Regions from separate parts of the Homo sapiens genome. Here region 1 is linked to region 2. Evidence: fine-mapped expression QTL. A gene starts in region 2. The other region holds a variant in brackets. All regions are shown on one strand. Distances are between the middles of the regions. Region 1 overlaps LINC01572 (long intergenic non-protein coding RNA 1572). Region 2 holds the start of ZFHX3-AS1 (ZFHX3 antisense RNA 1).

The links. PIP is the estimated chance that this variant, and not a neighbour inherited with it, causes the effect.
Region 1: its variant is fine-mapped to the expression of ZFHX3-AS1 in whole blood (TOPMed, PIP above 0.99).

What each region holds. Positions count from the first base shown.
Region 1 is chr16:72,401,746-72,410,161 of GRCh38, reverse strand. The region is part of intron 7 of LINC01572 (long intergenic non-protein coding RNA 1572); the gene reads left to right. Among named protein-coding and RNA genes, the nearest start is that of PMFBP1, 230 kb to the right of the region's middle. The variant T/G (reference allele first, on the strand shown) is at 4,920.
Region 2 is chr16:72,660,916-72,669,331 of GRCh38, reverse strand. It overlaps ZFHX3-AS1 (ZFHX3 antisense RNA 1), which reads right to left and starts at 4,199. Exons shown (of 4, transcript NR_171704.1): 1 at 3,999-4,199. LINC01572 (long intergenic non-protein coding RNA 1572) reads left to right here and starts at 4,362. Exons shown (of 14, transcript NR_126330.2): 1 at 4,362-4,440. RefSeq lists enhancers at 4,401-4,460, 4,501-4,620.

The DNA of each region.
Region 1 (8,416 bases), 260 kb after region 2:
TAAGACATAAGCCTCTAAGCCAAAGCTTTTTCCTTCATTCCAGCATTTCTCAATCTAGGAATCCTGAAAGGCTGGGATGTCCCCAGATGTCATCTTATAACAAAGTTTTTTATTCTTTCAACAAATATTGACTGAGTGCTTATTATGTGTTGGACACTGTTCTGGGCACTTGAGATACATTATGAAAAAAGAAAAATGTTGCTGCCCTGAGCTTAAATGAGCTTACATTCTTGTGGGAATAGAGGAGATAGACAATAAACAAATAAAGAAGTAAAATATATAATATGTTAGAAGGTGACAAGTGCTATAAAAAAAAATTCAACAGTTTAAAATTGTGCTTTTATCTTTTTAATTATATTTAACAATGATAATGCAAATAATCTTAGTAACCTCTTATAACAAAATACTCCAACCTGGGCAACAAAGTGAGACTCTGTCTCTATGAAAAATTAGCTGAGCATAGTGGCACGGGCCTATAGTCCCAACTACTCAGGAGGCTGACCTAGAAGGATTGTTTGAGCCCCAGGAGGTCAAGGCTGCAGCGAGCAGTGTTGATGGCCCTGCATTCCAGAACAATTATTTGGTATTTTCTCTAGAAACACAATTATTTGGTTGTGTTTGGCTAGATAAGAGAATGCAAAAAATGTCATCGTACAATGTAAAACTGAAGGTCCCATAGTGGTTTAAAGAGGATTGATCTGTAACATAGCATGTGGTAGTAAAGGCAACATGAACCCAAATGAACACTGCTGTCTTTGTTACCATCTTGAATTTGAAATAGTCATTGTATTGCGGAGACCATATTTTTGTATGTGCCTATTTGAAACAATTCTGTGGTGCCAAATACCCTGTTCCAAATCCCATCAGATTATTTAATGCAAATTGAAATAATAGGAATATTTAAACTTACCTTTAAATAAAAGTTCTATAATGTTAACAATGACACTGATACAGTTTGGCTGTGTCCCCACTCAAATCTCATCTTGAATTCCCACATGTTGTGGGAGGGACCCAGTGGGAGATAATTGAATCATGGGGGGCGGTTTCCCCCATACTGTTCTCTTGGTAGTGAACAAGATCTGATGGTTTTATCAGGGGTTTCCACTTTTGCGTCTTCCTCATTCTCTCATTTTTTGCCTGTCATCATCCACATAAGATGTGACTTGCTCCACCTTGCCTTCCAGTATGATTGTGAGGCTCCCCCAGCCACTTGGAACTGTTTAAGTCCAATTAAACCTCTTTCTTTTGTAAGTTGCTCAGTCTCGGGCATGTCTTTATCAGCAGCGTGAAAATGGACTAATACAGACACCTTATTAAAATAGGCATTCAAAGATTGTTTCTGAGCAGGACTTTGTTAAGTCTGATCATACTGTACTATCAAACAAAGCCTTTACATTGTGAAAACTATTTTTTAAATAAAGGTTTAACTTATTAAAGTACAGAAATCTTGAGTGTACAACTCAATGAACATTAGTGCCATTTTATAAAACATACTTCTGTAAAGAGGCAGTGTCCACAGTAGTAACATGAAAATTTAAAAATATTAAATTTAGAAATATAGAACACCAAATAATAAATTTAACTATAGACACATGCCTGAAGAAATACCACCTTACATTAAACCTAACATTAGCAATTTTAGTAAAACAAAATAATTTATCATACTATTTTTATTTAAATACTGATTTTACAATTTTTTAAAATTTATTTTAGTTTTATAGTTATAAGAGCTTAAGAAAATGCATTAAACCTAACTTTATGATTTTATGTTTCCATGTATTTAAGTAATATAACATTAAGATTATGCAGAATTTCATTTTAAAGGGTCTGTATAGTTCTTACGTTTGAGAAACAATTTACTATGCAGCATTGTCTTCCTCTAAGTAGAAATTTATTTGATAAACAATGAATTTATTTGAGTACCTTTAATGAAAAGCTGTAACTTTTCTTGTTTAATGCCAAGTTGCAATTTGGTAGGGTAACGACTTCTATAGAAATATAATCTACATCTATCCAGTCCTCACTTGTGATCCTATCAACAAGTAGTGGTTATTCAAGTTGTTGATCAGCCTCAAACTATATTGTCATTACAAAAATTTTATTTTTATTGGGAAATTTTTATACATATTAATTTTCCCATATAGGTTCTTATTACAGAAACTTTAATTATTCTATCCTTTGCCCTATTTTTATGTTAACATTTTTATAATTCCAAATTCCTGAATTCTTGAATCTAGATTATTAAAAGACTTGATTGAAGTAGACTTAACTTAGTAACCACAACTTATATGCAATGACTAATCTGTGTTTCCCAGGTCAATTCTGGGGAAGATTTGTGGATGTGAATTGGAGCATGTGTTTACATCATGGCATTGAAAACAATTTTAAATTCAATATTAGCCATTCCCATTCTTTTTTTTTTTTTTTTTTTTTTTTTTTTTTTTTCGTTTTTTGAGACAGAGTTTCGCTCTTTCACCCAGGCTAGAGTGCAGTGGCACAAGCTCGGCTCACTGCAACCTCCGCCTCCTGGGTTCAAGTGATTCTCCTGCCTCAGCCTCCCGAGTAGCTGGGATTACAGATGCGTGCCACCACACCTGACTATTTTGTATTTTTAGTAGAGACAGGGTTTCACCATGTTGGCCAGGCTGGTCTCGAACTCCCGACCTCCAGTGATCCACCCAACTTGGCCTCCCAAGGTGCTGGGATTACAGGCATGAGCTACTGCACCCGGCTGCCATTTCCATTCTTACCCTACTATGAATATAATTAAAGCCATTACATTGTATACTTGGAATGGGTAGGTTGTATTATGAATTGTATTTCAATGAAGGCATTTTTTAAAAATTAGAGCCATGTGACCAGGTGCAGTGGCTCACACCTGTGATCCCAGCACTTTGGGAGGCTAAGGCGGGTCGATTACTTGAGGTCAGGAGTTCAAGACCAGCCTGGCCAACATGGTGAAACCCCATCTCTACTAAAAATACAAAAATTAGCCAGGTGTGGTGGCACACACCTGTAATCCCAGCTACTCAGGAGAATGAGGCAGGAGAATTGCTTGAGCCTGGGAGGTGGAGGTTGCAGTGAGCCAAGATTGTGCCACTGCACTCCAGCCTGGCCGACAGAATGAGACTCTGTCTCAAAAAAAAAAAAAAAAAAAATTAGAGCCATGTAACAGTCTGTTTCTATTTACCATCTCATCCTTTGTGATATTATCTTATAGGTAATATATACATTAACCGAGAAGGTGTTATTATATTTCATTAGTCATTTTCTTTTAAAGATAAGAAAAAGTATAGTCCTTTATAGTTACCCAAGTATTTACCATTTCATATTTCTTCATTCTTTCTCTATAAATTTTCATCTGATTTTTCTCACCCTGAAGAATTTATATTTCTTTTAGAACCATTCTGCTGATAACAGGCTCTCTCAATTTTTTCTGAAAATTTATTTATTTTGCTTTCATTTTTTAAGATGATTGTTTTCCTAGGTAGAGATTGTAAGATTGGCAGTTCCTGCTTCCCTCAGCACTTTAAGATGTTCCATTATTTCCTCACCTCCATTGTTTCTGATGAGAAATCAGTAATAATTTGTATAATTGTTCCCCTGTTTATAATGGAGCTGTTTTTCCTCTGGCTGCTTTTCTCTTTATTTATGTTTTCAACTGTTCGGTGAAAATGTGCCTAAGTGTGGTTTCTTTGTATTTATCTTAATTGGAGTTCAGATCTTGTATCTATAAATTTATGTCTTTCATAATTTAGGAAAAATTTGGTCATTATTTCCTCAAATCTTTTATTATACTGCATTTTCACAGCTCTGAGAATACATTTAAATATAACTTAAAACCACTTAAATATAGTCCCACAGAATAGTGAGTCTTTGTAGGTTTTTTTCAATATTGTTTCTGTCTCATCTTCAGATTGAATATTTTCTATTGATGTATTTTCAAGTTCACGGCTTCCTTTCTTTGGCTTTCTCCAACTTACTTTTTTTCCATCCACTGTTTCTTCATGTGTTTAGTAGTTTTTAATTGTGCTATTGTGGAGGCTATGGCTATCTTTAAATACTGCTGATTTTGTTCTAGCAAGCAATTCAAGGGACTGAGCTCAAAAATGAAACTCCTCCCTGAGCTAAACTCTTCACTCATTTTTTTTAGCCTTCCAGCTGTTGTTTTTTGCCAGGTCCTCTGCACATGCATTAATCAAGACCAGCCAAGGATTTGAGGGGGTTTATATGAAGATTTTATACCTCCAGGCCCTCAGCTTTCTCCTGTCTGAGGTCTTCCCATGATTTTCTAGCAATTCCATCAGCCCAAAATTTTTTCCTTTGAATCCTCAAATCAGGTAAGACTATAGCTTTCTGCTTGCGTTCCAGCCGTTTCATGTGGTGTAGACTGACTGGAAAGAGCCTTTAAGTGAAAAGCCAGATGCAGAATCAATGCAGTTCCCCTTTCAGTTTCTACCTGCTTTAAGTTGTCCCAGTGCCTTCAAATAGTTGTTTTTATATTTTTCCCCAGAATGTATTGCTGTCTATTGGAAGGTTAACATAATACAAGTCAATCTACCATTGCCAAAAGTGTAACGGCATCATAATTTTAAAATTTGGATAATACTTTTGCACATAGAATGTTCCTTTTTTATGCCCTCTCGTTCTTGTCTCATGAATGCAATCAAAATATTTTCTTATTTAACAATATTGATTATGGGTCTTATGAGATTATTTTCTGCTTCCTGTTCTCTTTTCGTCAATTTTTTTTTTTCCTTATTCAGCTTTTTAGTGTATGGAGAGAGGAACTTTGTTTAGATATCTGGTCCTTGACTTTCCATTCATATTTGAGGGTGAGGTTCTAAAAAGACAATTGAAATCTTCTTGTGCATAAATGTGGATTGTTATCTGTTGAAATCAATGTTAGACAGAATGAC[T/G]AGTCATTTTATTAGGGATCTCCAAATGTCAGTATTACGAAGTCTCTTATTTTATGATGGTGCTATTTCAGAGAGGATTTTTCTAAGTTCCTGTCTTGAAATTATGAGTTTGGTTGTCAGCATTCTTGGAGCCACACTGGGGAAAGAAGCTGGCATGGTGATATGGTTTGGCTTTGTCCCCACCCAAATCTCATCTTGAATTGTAGCTCCCATAATTCCCACATGTCGTGGGAGGGGCCTAGTGGGAGGTAACTGAATCATGGGGGCAGGCTTTTCCTGTGCTGTTATCGTGATAGTTAATAAGTCTCACAAGATCTGATGGTTTTATAAAGGACAGAGACTAAGTCTAGAAAGTCCTTCAAACTTATTCACCCTGGTACTATGGGTACCCTTAAAGAAAATATTTGTATATGCATGCCCAGATTCAAAGATGTGAGCCTCATACATTGGTACGTGAAGACCTGGCTGTGAGCCAAAGTCACAAGAAATGTAGGTAAGTACAGCTGGGCTCCTCCCATGCATTGAGAGGTACTCACAGGCTCAGCCCTAAGCAGGCTTGCACTGGGCAGGTTTTCAGAAAAAAGCCATGCCCAATTTATTGTTGCTTATCCAGCAATGACCAAGAATTATGGCATCAGAGTATTTAAATAGTGACAACAAAGAACATGCTGGGGCTGCTGGGTTCTCCTTGTTTCAATAAGGATATCTTGTGCCAGTGACATTAGTAACAGCTGTAAAGAATTCAACTGCTTGGTTGACTAGTCAGAGGATGCTTACCAGAACTGACCTGTAAGTCTGAATAAGCATCCTTAGAGGTCTTGAAGTTGTCAGCAAAGCAAACATCCTGGGGAGAAAATAAAGCATAGAGACATTTAATTTGAAAATTAAAAGGAATATGACATTATTATGTATCTTAGGCTTATGATAACAGATGTGTGTATACACATATAACAAACATTATATATGGACTGCAAAGTACTTGAAAATGATACCATATCAACAACTGTGCACTTAAAAATTCTGAATAAAGAGCACAGATACTAAGTAGAGACAAATTTTATCCATGAACAATCAGTCCAGGAAAGATTCCTGAAGTTAACTTCTCAGCTGGATTTTGAAGAGGATGAAGCCTATGTATCTTTATGGATGAAAGAGGGAAGTGATATAAATTCTAGGCTACCAAGCCAAAAAAAAATCAAGTTGAATTTTATTTATTTAATTGTAGAACAAATGATCAGCAGCAGAAGTCTCCCCACTGACCCCTAGCCACACACACACCCTTTTTTAATGATCTGCCACTCATCACAGTAATGAAGATGTTCTTTAGGCAATGTTATACCATATGGCCTAAAAGCTTAGAAGGCAAGAAAAGTCAAACCTGAGAATAGCAAACATAGTGAGCAGCTGAAGTGGAATATCTTTTATGGAAATAAACTCGTAGTTAATAAAACAGTAGTTCTAACAATGAAGTACCTTGAGTAATAAACTTACTGATTAATACGTAGCCAATGGGATACTTGAACTGAAGAATAATATTGTACAAATAATCTCAAAGTTTAGTTGGTGTACGAAAAGTCAGATGATGAGAATTTTCTAGCGCTTCCTTCTGCAATCATCTACACATGAGATAGTTAAGGCCAAATGATACAGTTGGCTGTATCCCCACCCAAATCTCATCTTGAATTTTAGCTCCCGTAATTCCCACGTGTTGTGGGATGGACCGGGTGGGAGATAACTGAATCATGGGGAGGATTTCTCCCATACTGTTCTCGTGGTAGTGAATAAGTCTCACGAGATCTGATGATTTTATAAGGGGTTTCCCCTTTCACTTTGCTCATTCTCTTGCCTGCCGCTATGTAAGATGTGCCTTTTGCCTTTTGCCTTTTGCCTTTCGCCTTCCACCATGATTGTGAGGCCTCCCCAGCCACGTGGAACTGTGAGTCCATTAAACCTCTTTTTCTTTATAAAATGCCCAGTCTCGGGTATGTCTTTATCAACCGCGTTAAAACAGACTAATACACCAGAGATCTGGGAAGTAGAGGAATTGGAAGCTGGGAGTAGGAGTATGGGGAGACCAAAGTTGTTACAAAGAAGTGATTAGCAGAATTTTTAATTGTAAGTTAAAATAGCAGTAGGGAAAAAATGATACCACAGCTTTCAGCCTGGAAACACTCAAGATGTTGTTGATAGTGATGGGGAAATTAGTGAAGATGACTCTTCGGGGAGATGGACTTGTTTTTAAATATGATGTTTCAGGAGTTGTATGGCATTCAAACTGAAATGTTCCATGGACAATGGTGGAGAGAAGTATAATCGTAGATGGCAGTATGGTAGCCCAAACTTGATAACATCTGAAGCCATAAAACTTATTTAGATCCTCCAGAAGGGGTATCAAAGGAGTAAGAAACTTGGAATTTAGCCTTGAAAGTGCCCAGTTGTAGGAAATGAACTAAAGATGGACACATCAGAGAGAGTTGGAAGGAATTGTTGAATCTCTAAATTGTCATAAATCCATACAATCCATATAATAGACAATGTTATAAATTCACCTCAAAATCTACCAAAGGGGACCTCCAGTAAGCTATTAAGAACCTGAAGACAGTGTTTTACTCAAGCCAAAGCAAGAGAGAAGAGAAATAACTGTGCTGGTTTACACCGAATTACATTACAGGATTATACAGGGCTTTTCCAGACAGTATCTTGACTTCTACAACAACTTACTGAAATGATTGTTTTTATGCTCCTTGTACTGATGAGGAAGGGAAAGAAGGACTAATTGCCTAAATTTCTAGAAAATGGAAACAATGTGGAGAAACCACTGAATCTGGACAAGGAAGACATTTCCGAAAAGATTGAGTCTCTCAAATTTCACATTGTGATTGGGGAAAAATTCTTTCCACATAGGCCTTATTTTGTATTTCCTTTTTTTTTTTTTTTTTTTTTGAGACAGAGTCTCACTCTGTCACCCAAGCTGGAATGAATCTCGGCTCACTGCAACCTCCTCCCACTGGGTTCAAGCAATTCTCGTGCCTCAGCCTTCTGGGTAGCTGGGACTACAGGCACCCGCCACCACACCTGGCTAATTTTCTGTATTTTTAGTAGAGATGGAGTTTCACCATGTTGGCCAGGCTGGTCTCGAACTCCTGACCTCAAGTGATCCGCCCACCTCAGCCTCCCAAAGTGCTAGGATTACAGGCATGAGCCACCATGCCTGGCCAGCCTTATTTTAAAGATGAGAATTTCTGAACTCTTAACAATCCTTGCTGATAGTAGAAGACTTTCTGTAGTTTGTCATGGAGCAGTCTCCCATAATTCAGAGCAGTAATAAGCAAACCAAAGCATCTATGCTGTTTCAATTCTGCCAAAGTTTATTATAAGGAAGTCAAGTTCAGTGGTGAATAAACTATCTTAATATTTTATTCAAAATTCACGTATGGGCCGGGAGTGGTGGCTCACACCTGTATTCCCAGCACTTTGGGAGGCCGAGGCAGGCGGAT
Region 2 (8,416 bases):
TTCTTATTCACCTGCTATAAATATTATTTGCTTGAGACTCTTGTTTTTGGTTTCTGCCAGTTTGTTTTTCTTTCCACTTTGTTTCATATGCTGCCTCTTTCAAGGTCTCTAAAAGGAGAAATACTCCCTCAATTCTCTGTATAACCATTTTCTTTTTCTTTGATCTCTTAGAAATCTTTATTAAACAAAGATTTTCCAATTTTTTCTTCACTCATACCTCTTTTCCAGGCTCTTAAATGACATTTCTTACTTGCCGAATTAATGGCTTATCATATTCCCTGTCGCTCAAGATTTAATCTTTAGAATTCTTTTTCAATAGTCCCTCTTCCCTACTCACTATGGTTAATAGATCAGTGTGTTCTTAAATCGAGGTTTTTAATTTAAATAATCTAAATCAAAATCATGAAGAAGGGTTGTTAAAAATGCTAGATTCATGTGCTTTACCCTGAATTAGCTGAAAAGGTTTTCAAGGATAGATCCCAGAAATCTTTTTAAATCAACAACCCATGTAAGACTTAGGCATACTACATTTTGAGAACTACTGCATTATATCAATTTTCACCTAAGTCTGCTCATTCTACCTTCTCAGTGTTTCTCATCCATTTATCTCCTATTGTCTCTACCCTAGTTCAGGGCTGCTTCATCTCTTAGCTGGACATCTGTAATAGGATTTTCCTGCCTTTAGGATATTTCCCACTTTAATTCATCCTACACACTGGAGTCTTATTAATCTTACTAAATTGCAGCTCTGCTCATTTAATGTGACAACAATTTACTGAGAGCATACTATATACTAGGTGCTCTAGGGCAGTAGATTCTAAATGGTGTGATCACCAGATTTATTAAGTGAGGGAAAACTTTTCAAAATAGAGATCCTCCACCACCTCTCCAGGCCTACTTAATTACAATCTTCAGAGCTAGAATTAAGACAAGTTTCTTTTTAAAAAGTTCCCCAATTGACTCCTTTGGGTAACACTAGATGCTTTTGAATAACATTAGACTGGAACAAATAAAGATTATGACATTCTTGTGTATTTCAGAACGTACTGGGAGGGATATGAACATAAGCAAATAGCTACCATATAATATGCCGATTAATGATATATTAGAGGTACCAAGTGCCATGAAAAGATTAATTCGAACTGCATTAAATACCTTCAGCACCACACCCAGCTGGATGAAATCTGTTTGTCCTGTAATCTTCCATAGCACTTTATCTATAATCCTCTTATGGTCTTCTTTCATCTTGCTCAATAATTATTTTTTTATTTGTCTCATTTCCTCTACCCTTGTACTTGAGGCCACAGTCTTGGTCTTTGTGGTGCATGTAGTCTGACAAGAAATTTTTTTTGGAGTTCAAATTTATTTACACGATAAAGTTACACAAAAAATTAAATTTTGTAAAGTTAGGTATTTAATAAATGATCTCAAAAATAGGTCCTTGTAACTCTAGGATATATGTAGCCAAACGTATGGATCTTAATCCCTGCATGGCACTTAGTACAGTTCCTTTAACACAACAAGTACTCAATAAAAAAAGCTGTGCATAAACCAATGGGGTCTGGGAAAAATGTATTTGGATATGCAATAAAAATACTTAATATGTCCAATATCCACCATCAGGTTATGATTCCAAACGAAGTAACATGGTGGTGGTTTTTGCAAACTGATAACCTGTAAGTCAAAACCAGCCAAACTGTTTTGTTTGGATGGCTCGGGTGGGGATGGAGGGTTGTTTACAATTTTAATTTGAATGTCTTCTGTCTGGGCAAATATACTTTGAATTGCCACAGGCCCTACCACTTCCTATTATCTTACACTAATCTGACTTACACATTTATGCTATCTATAGGTCTAAAAATGGGAGTTCTGAAAGGTGACAGATAATTGCTCCCAATCATTTCTGCTTTTTGAGTCTTGGCTACTGTTATGGCCTTGAGTCTCCCCAAAAGTTATATGTTAAAGGTGTAACCCCTAGTACTTCAGAAAGTAACCCTATTTGGAGATAAGGTGTTTGAAGAGGTAATTAAGCTAAAATGAGGTCTTTAACACGGGCCTAAATCCAGTAGGGTTGGTGTGCTTACAAGGAAAGAAAATTTGGACACAGGTGTGCACACACATGGAGAAAACAGCACATGAAGACAAAGAGATGAGACAGTGATCTGAGTCAAGGACAGAGACCTCAGAAAGAAACCAACCCTGCTGATACCTTGATCTTGAACTTCTAGCCTCCAGAATTGTGAGAAAATAACTTTCTGTTGTTTAAGCCACCTAGTCTGTGGCATTTTGTTATGTTTGCTCTAGCAAACTAATATGGATCTCAACTATATTTAGTATTAATCTTGGCAGTTTTACATCAAAACTTATTTGTTCAAGTCTGTCTGCCAGGTACATGGTGAACACAATTCTGAGTAGTTTAGGGTTTAGATGATGCAAGTTATATGTAAGATATATTCATAAACATAAATAAGAAACATTATAAAGAATACAAAAAAATGCCAAATAAAGACTATTATAGGCATTCAGGAGGGAGAGAGGTGACTATGGACTAGGTCACAAAAGATTCACAATTTGACCTGGGTCTTAAAAGCGTAAGTAGGATTCAGCCAAGCTGAGGAGAGAGGACATCAAGGAGATAACAGTGAACAATGCCAAATACATGTCTACTACCGGAGGAAATTTATTTTTCTCCTTTTAAGTACCTCTATGTTCAAGTTTCTTTTCTGTGCTTTCTAACCTCTAAGATCACTATATATTTTTAAATGAATGGTGTAAGTCCTTACAAAATTTAGGCATTTTTTTTTCTTGTCAGATAAATAACAGTTCAACTGACTTTGTTCAGTACAACACTGACATCCAAAGGATACTCGGGTTCATCTGAAGGCCTCTTGGGCTTCTGCTGAGTTGGTTTGATTTTCAAATGGTCTATGTAGGCAGTAAGCTGCTCATGGAACATTCTCTTTTGAAACCCTGGGCATTTTTTGATCTCTTACCCATTTATCAAATCTCATCACATTAAATGGCTCCACAATGCAGGTGGCCTGTGTTTTCCTAAGTGCCTCCTCTTCTTAAGAATGTATTACTCAGTTCATTAATGTTTCATACTTAAGTATTCTGTGTATTTAATTTTTTATTTAATGAAATTTCTAACCTTCAGGCTGACGAATTATTCAGAATGTTTCATCCAAGCTGTTGGAAAAGTGCTCATTAGCAGGGAGTTTTGAAGATGGAATTTTAAGAAAGGGGTTGGCAGGATCCCAAACACATATAGATCTAAGCTTTCATAAATGCTTCCCTACCTTAGCTATGGAGGAAGAAATTGTTGATAAGCAGATAAGTTTTGCTTTAGTTTTTACATTTTAGTGACAATAACAATGATTTCTGTGGTCTGATAAAAGATGTTCGTTTAAAGAGTTATCTGCAGAAAGCTGTGTGGTCACTAATGTTTACTTTCATTGACAAATGAGATCGTCTTGTGTGGGACTATCATCATCAAATGAGACACAACTGAAACTAAAGCAGCCATGCTTACCATTCGGTTTAAAATTTTTAAAATTAAAATAATGCTCCTAACGAAAGGAGTCTCAGCTGAATTAGTTTGAGTGTTGGCATGGACTGGGCTCAAATCACCTGCTCATCTTTAACACCTGCCTTCAGATTTATGGGCGATTAAGAACTTAAGTCTGAGAACCTATGAGACTGTCACAGAAAATAAAATTTCAGTTCTTCGTCCATTAACTGGTTCAGATGAAATTTGGGGTCAGAAACAACCAGAACGTTAAATTTCATTGTAAACTTAAATCGCATTCAATGGTTAAAGACTACAAAATGTATGTAGTGCAGTTAAAAAACCTCACACAGCAAGAGGTTATTGAATGTTTAAAGATCCAAAATTTCAACTTTTTGTGGTTAAGTACAGTTATGTTGGGTAACAAAGTTGACAGCAGGTTTCTGTTACCCCCCTGTTGGAGGAGGAGGAGGCGCTACCACACGCTTACCTTAGGGAAATAACGTGCACTTTATAACCGTTCAGGTAAATCGTTGGGTGAGAAAGAAGAATAAAGGACACAGCCGGTGGAGGGACCCCAGCACACAGTCCCGTGGGTGCTCCGGAGGAAACGGCCGCAGCCCCAAATCTCCTAGTCTCTCTAGCAGGGAGTTTTCCCGCGGAGTCTCGCCTGGCGGCCGGAAGCCACCTCAAGCCGCCCACCCGGAAGCCGTCGTCTTGGCAACTGGGTATCGTCCCACCCCCTTTTCTTAGCAACGCCTATCGCCTTAGACGTCTGAGGTCAGCCGAGCCTCGATTGGTTCCTCTGTCTTTCACTCTGGGAGACGTTTGAGACCCAGCGTCTCTAGATCTCGTATTTGAATTTGTGGCGCTTGGTGTCCGCGAGTTGCCGAATGAAGCTGAGCGTCTCAGTGGAACCAGGGATCTCAGGGGTGAGCGACCGCGAGGGGAGAGCGACGAAAAGGGCGGCCGGAGCTGGAGGGGCGCGGAGTTAAACAAAAAAGGGCGGCCGGAGCTGCAGGGGCGCCGAGTTAAACACGTCATTTCCAGATGGGGGGCTTCAGGCGAGCTGCTTAGCTCCCCTGAGGCAGGCCCTCCGTCTGTTCGCCTTTTCGTAGCCTCTGAGTTTTTCCCTCACGTCGTTTTCCGGCAGTCCCAGAGACGCCACGCCTGCCCCCGTTCTGTTGCCCCTGATGGAAGGCTCCTCTTAACGCTACCTTCCCTCTTTCACAAAATGTCTCTCAGCTTCCTTATTTCGACGTGCTTACACCTCCCCCAAGTATAATTCACTCCCCACTGATGTCTTTGGTAGTTTCATCCTCGTCTTCATCACTAATACTATGAGACACGGGGTGCGTGCACTTGACGATGTAGAAAAATGGTTTTCGCGCAACCTGGTGAGCGTCCCACACCTCACAAATTGAATCCAAAAAATTCCTTATTCATAAAAGATGCTGCTGTCCTACTCTTCCCGACCGGGAATATCATGACGTGGAAAGCAGCAAGTGACAGCGTTTTATAAAGCGCTACAAAAGTAAGCTATTGATGCGTTCACATCGGAAACATAATTGTTTTGTTTTCGGTCGGACCCTCTGGATCCATAGGTTTCGTATTGGGTTTATGGATACTGTTCAGACTTTGAAATGAATAATGCCAAAAGTTACGTTGGAGGACAAACTGAGGATTGATCCCAAGCACAAAAGTAACCACTGATTAAAACCTTCTCTTCATTAACCTTTAGCTTCTTTGTCTATTGTGATACTTCTCCCACCCCGGTGGATTTAATTTCCATTGAGATTTATGAACATTTTAGGAGTTTACAGTCTAAATAGACAGCTTTCCCCACCTCTCCTGTATATGACCATGAAAATCCTCTATTAACTTTCCAGTTTGATAATGCAGTATGAGCTTCTATATGCTTAGCCTCTAGAACAGAGATTCTTTTGGGGGTGGGGGGTCTTAGTCCTGTTTAAGACCCAGAGGAAAACCTTGGAGCTTTTCTCCAGAATATGACACATACACACAAAATTTTGTATTAGTTTTAGAGAGTTGTATTTTGTTTTAGTAGAAAAGAGATCTGACTTTGTTGCTCAGACTGATCTCCAGTGTCAGCCTCCCAAAGGGTTGGGATTACAAGCGTGAGCCGCCGAGCCCAACCCTGTTTTAGGGAGTTTTAGATTCTGTTTTGAAATGTGGATATTAGTGGGACCCCAGTCCAATTCTACACGTTTATTTATATATATACACACACGTATGTCTATATATATAATTATATATATTTACATAATATATATCTATGTATATAATTTTTTTAAGTAGAAATAAGCAGCGAAACAGTGTTTTAACTTCTACCGAATGGCTGTCATTTCTTAGTTTTAAGACTTGTAGTTCGGAGGGAGGTGGAATGAGAAGGCTGAAAATTTTACATGAGCTCTGATTTAAGGATATTAGAAAAGTCATTTCTAAGTGTGGCGGTCCACGCCTGTAATCCCAACCAACACTTTGGGAGGCTGAGGTGGAAAGACTGCTTCAGCCCAGGAGTTCGAGACCAACCCAGGAGTTCAAGACGATAGTCGGACCCCATCTCTACAAAAAAATTTTAAAATTAGCCAGCCGTGGTGGTGTTCGCCTTGCTCCCAGCTACTCAGGAGGCTGAGGTGGGAGGATCACTTGGGCCGGGGAATTCCAGGCTGCAGTGGCCAATGATCGTGCCTATCTCCAAAACAAACAAACAAAAAACAGAGAGATAAAGGTAGTAAGGTAGTATATGAGCACAGGGGCATACCAAAAAATAAGTTCACAAGGTATTGCATCCAGAGTCTTTTTGAATTAACAAGAAATAGGAAAATTCTTGATCAACATGAAGAGTGAAAATAGTTTGTGTGCCTTAATTTTTTGGATGTTTTATATTAAAATAATTTTATGGTGAATTCTACCAGCATATACCTGAATATAATCTCATAATCTTCTTCCTAACCATCTCAGGCATTATCTTTCACATGAGAACATTAGCTTACCTGAAATTTGCTTTTATATATGATGTGAGGAATGGCTTTAACTAAATTTTTTTTCACTGTTCGGTTGCCATTTTGGGGAGATTGGTCTTCAGTTTTGCTTTATTTTGATTGTCTGGTTTTAGAATTAGGGTAATGGTGTCTGACATCTTTAAGTGATCTGGGATGTGTTGTATTCTTTACTTCTTGAAAAAGTTTGTATAAGATTGGCATTGCATTGTTAAGTGTTTGATAGAATACATCCATCTATGTAGATCCATATTTTCATAATTTTCCTTCAGTTTGAATAACTTCATTTATTTAATACTGCATGTAGGTGAAGGATTCTGTCAGTGTTTGTTTCTTAGAAAATGTTTTTATTTAACTTTCATTTTTGAAAGATTTATTTTTAAACTGGATATATAATTGTAGGTTGACTTTTTTTAGCACTTTAATATTCTATTGTCCTCTGGCTGTTGTTTTTAGATATTTGGTGTCATTCTTATCTTTGTTCTCCTGTATATAATGTCTCCCCCAACCCCATCCCACCTCACCCTCACTTTTGAAAAAACAAAGTCGGGCATATTTAGTCATAATTTGCATATGGTAAAGTTGACTCTTTTAAGGAATACTGTTCTATGAGTTTGGACAAATGTGAAGAGTTGTGAACTATCACAATCATTTTTAGTATATCTGTAAGTCTGTAAAGTCTCATGCACTTATTATCGATTTTCTATCCTCACCATTGGTCCCTAGCAACCCTTGATCTGATATCTACTGCTATAGGTTTGTGTTTGGAGGCATCATGTTAGTGGAATCACATAGTATGAGCTGGTAGTGTCTGGCTTCTTTCACTTGATATAATACTTTCAAGATTCATCTATGTTCTTGCATGTATCACTAATTTTTTCTTTTAATGTGTGAGTAGTATTCCATTATATGTATTACCAGTTTGTTTATCCATTCAGCAGTTAATGGGCTTTGAGTTGTTTCCAGGTTTTGGCTGTTAGTAATAAAGCTGCTATAAACATTTGGCTACAGGTGTTTGTGTGGCCAAAGATTTTAATTTCTTGCTTGCTTGCTTGCTCTTTGCTTTTTTTTTTCCTCTCTATTTTTGTTTTGTTTTGTTTTGTTTTGTTTTTGAGGTAGGATATGGCTCACCATAACCTCGAATTCCTGGGCCTCAGCCTTTTCAAGTAGCTGGGACTACAGGAGCATGTCACCAGGCCTAGCTAATTTGTAATGTTTGGTAGAAAAAAGGTCTTGCTATGTTGTCCAGGCTGGACTTAACCTCCTGGTCTTAACCTCCTGCCTCAAGCAATCCTTCCACCTCAGCCTCCCAAAATGTTGGGATTATAGGTGTGAGGCACCATGCTCAGCCTTAATTTCATAAAATACTTTAAAACCTTTTTCAAAAGTGGCTGTCCCATTTTGCATTCCCATCAGCTGCATATGGCAGTTCCAGTTATTCAACAGTCATATCAGCCCTTGGGGTTTATAGTAGTTAGTAGTTTAAATTTTTTAAACTATTGCTCTGGGTCTGTACTGATGTCTCATTGTAATTTTAAGTTATATTTCTCTGATGCTTAATGAAATAGAGTAGTCAGTCATTCATCCACTTGTTATCTGAACGTCTTTTGTGAAGCATCTATAAAAATGTTTTGCCCTTTTTTTTTTTTTTTTTTTTTTGAGATGCAGTCTCACTCTGTTGCCCAGGCTGGAGTGCAGTGGTGCGATCTCAGCTCACTGCAGCCTCCTCCTCCTGGGTTCAAGCAGTTCTCCCACCTAAGTCTCACGAGTAGCTAGGATTACAGGCGCACGCCACCATGCCCAGCTAATTTTTGTATTTTTAGTAGAGACATGGTTTCACCACATTGGCCAGGCTGGTCTCGAACTCCTGACCTTGGGGATCCAC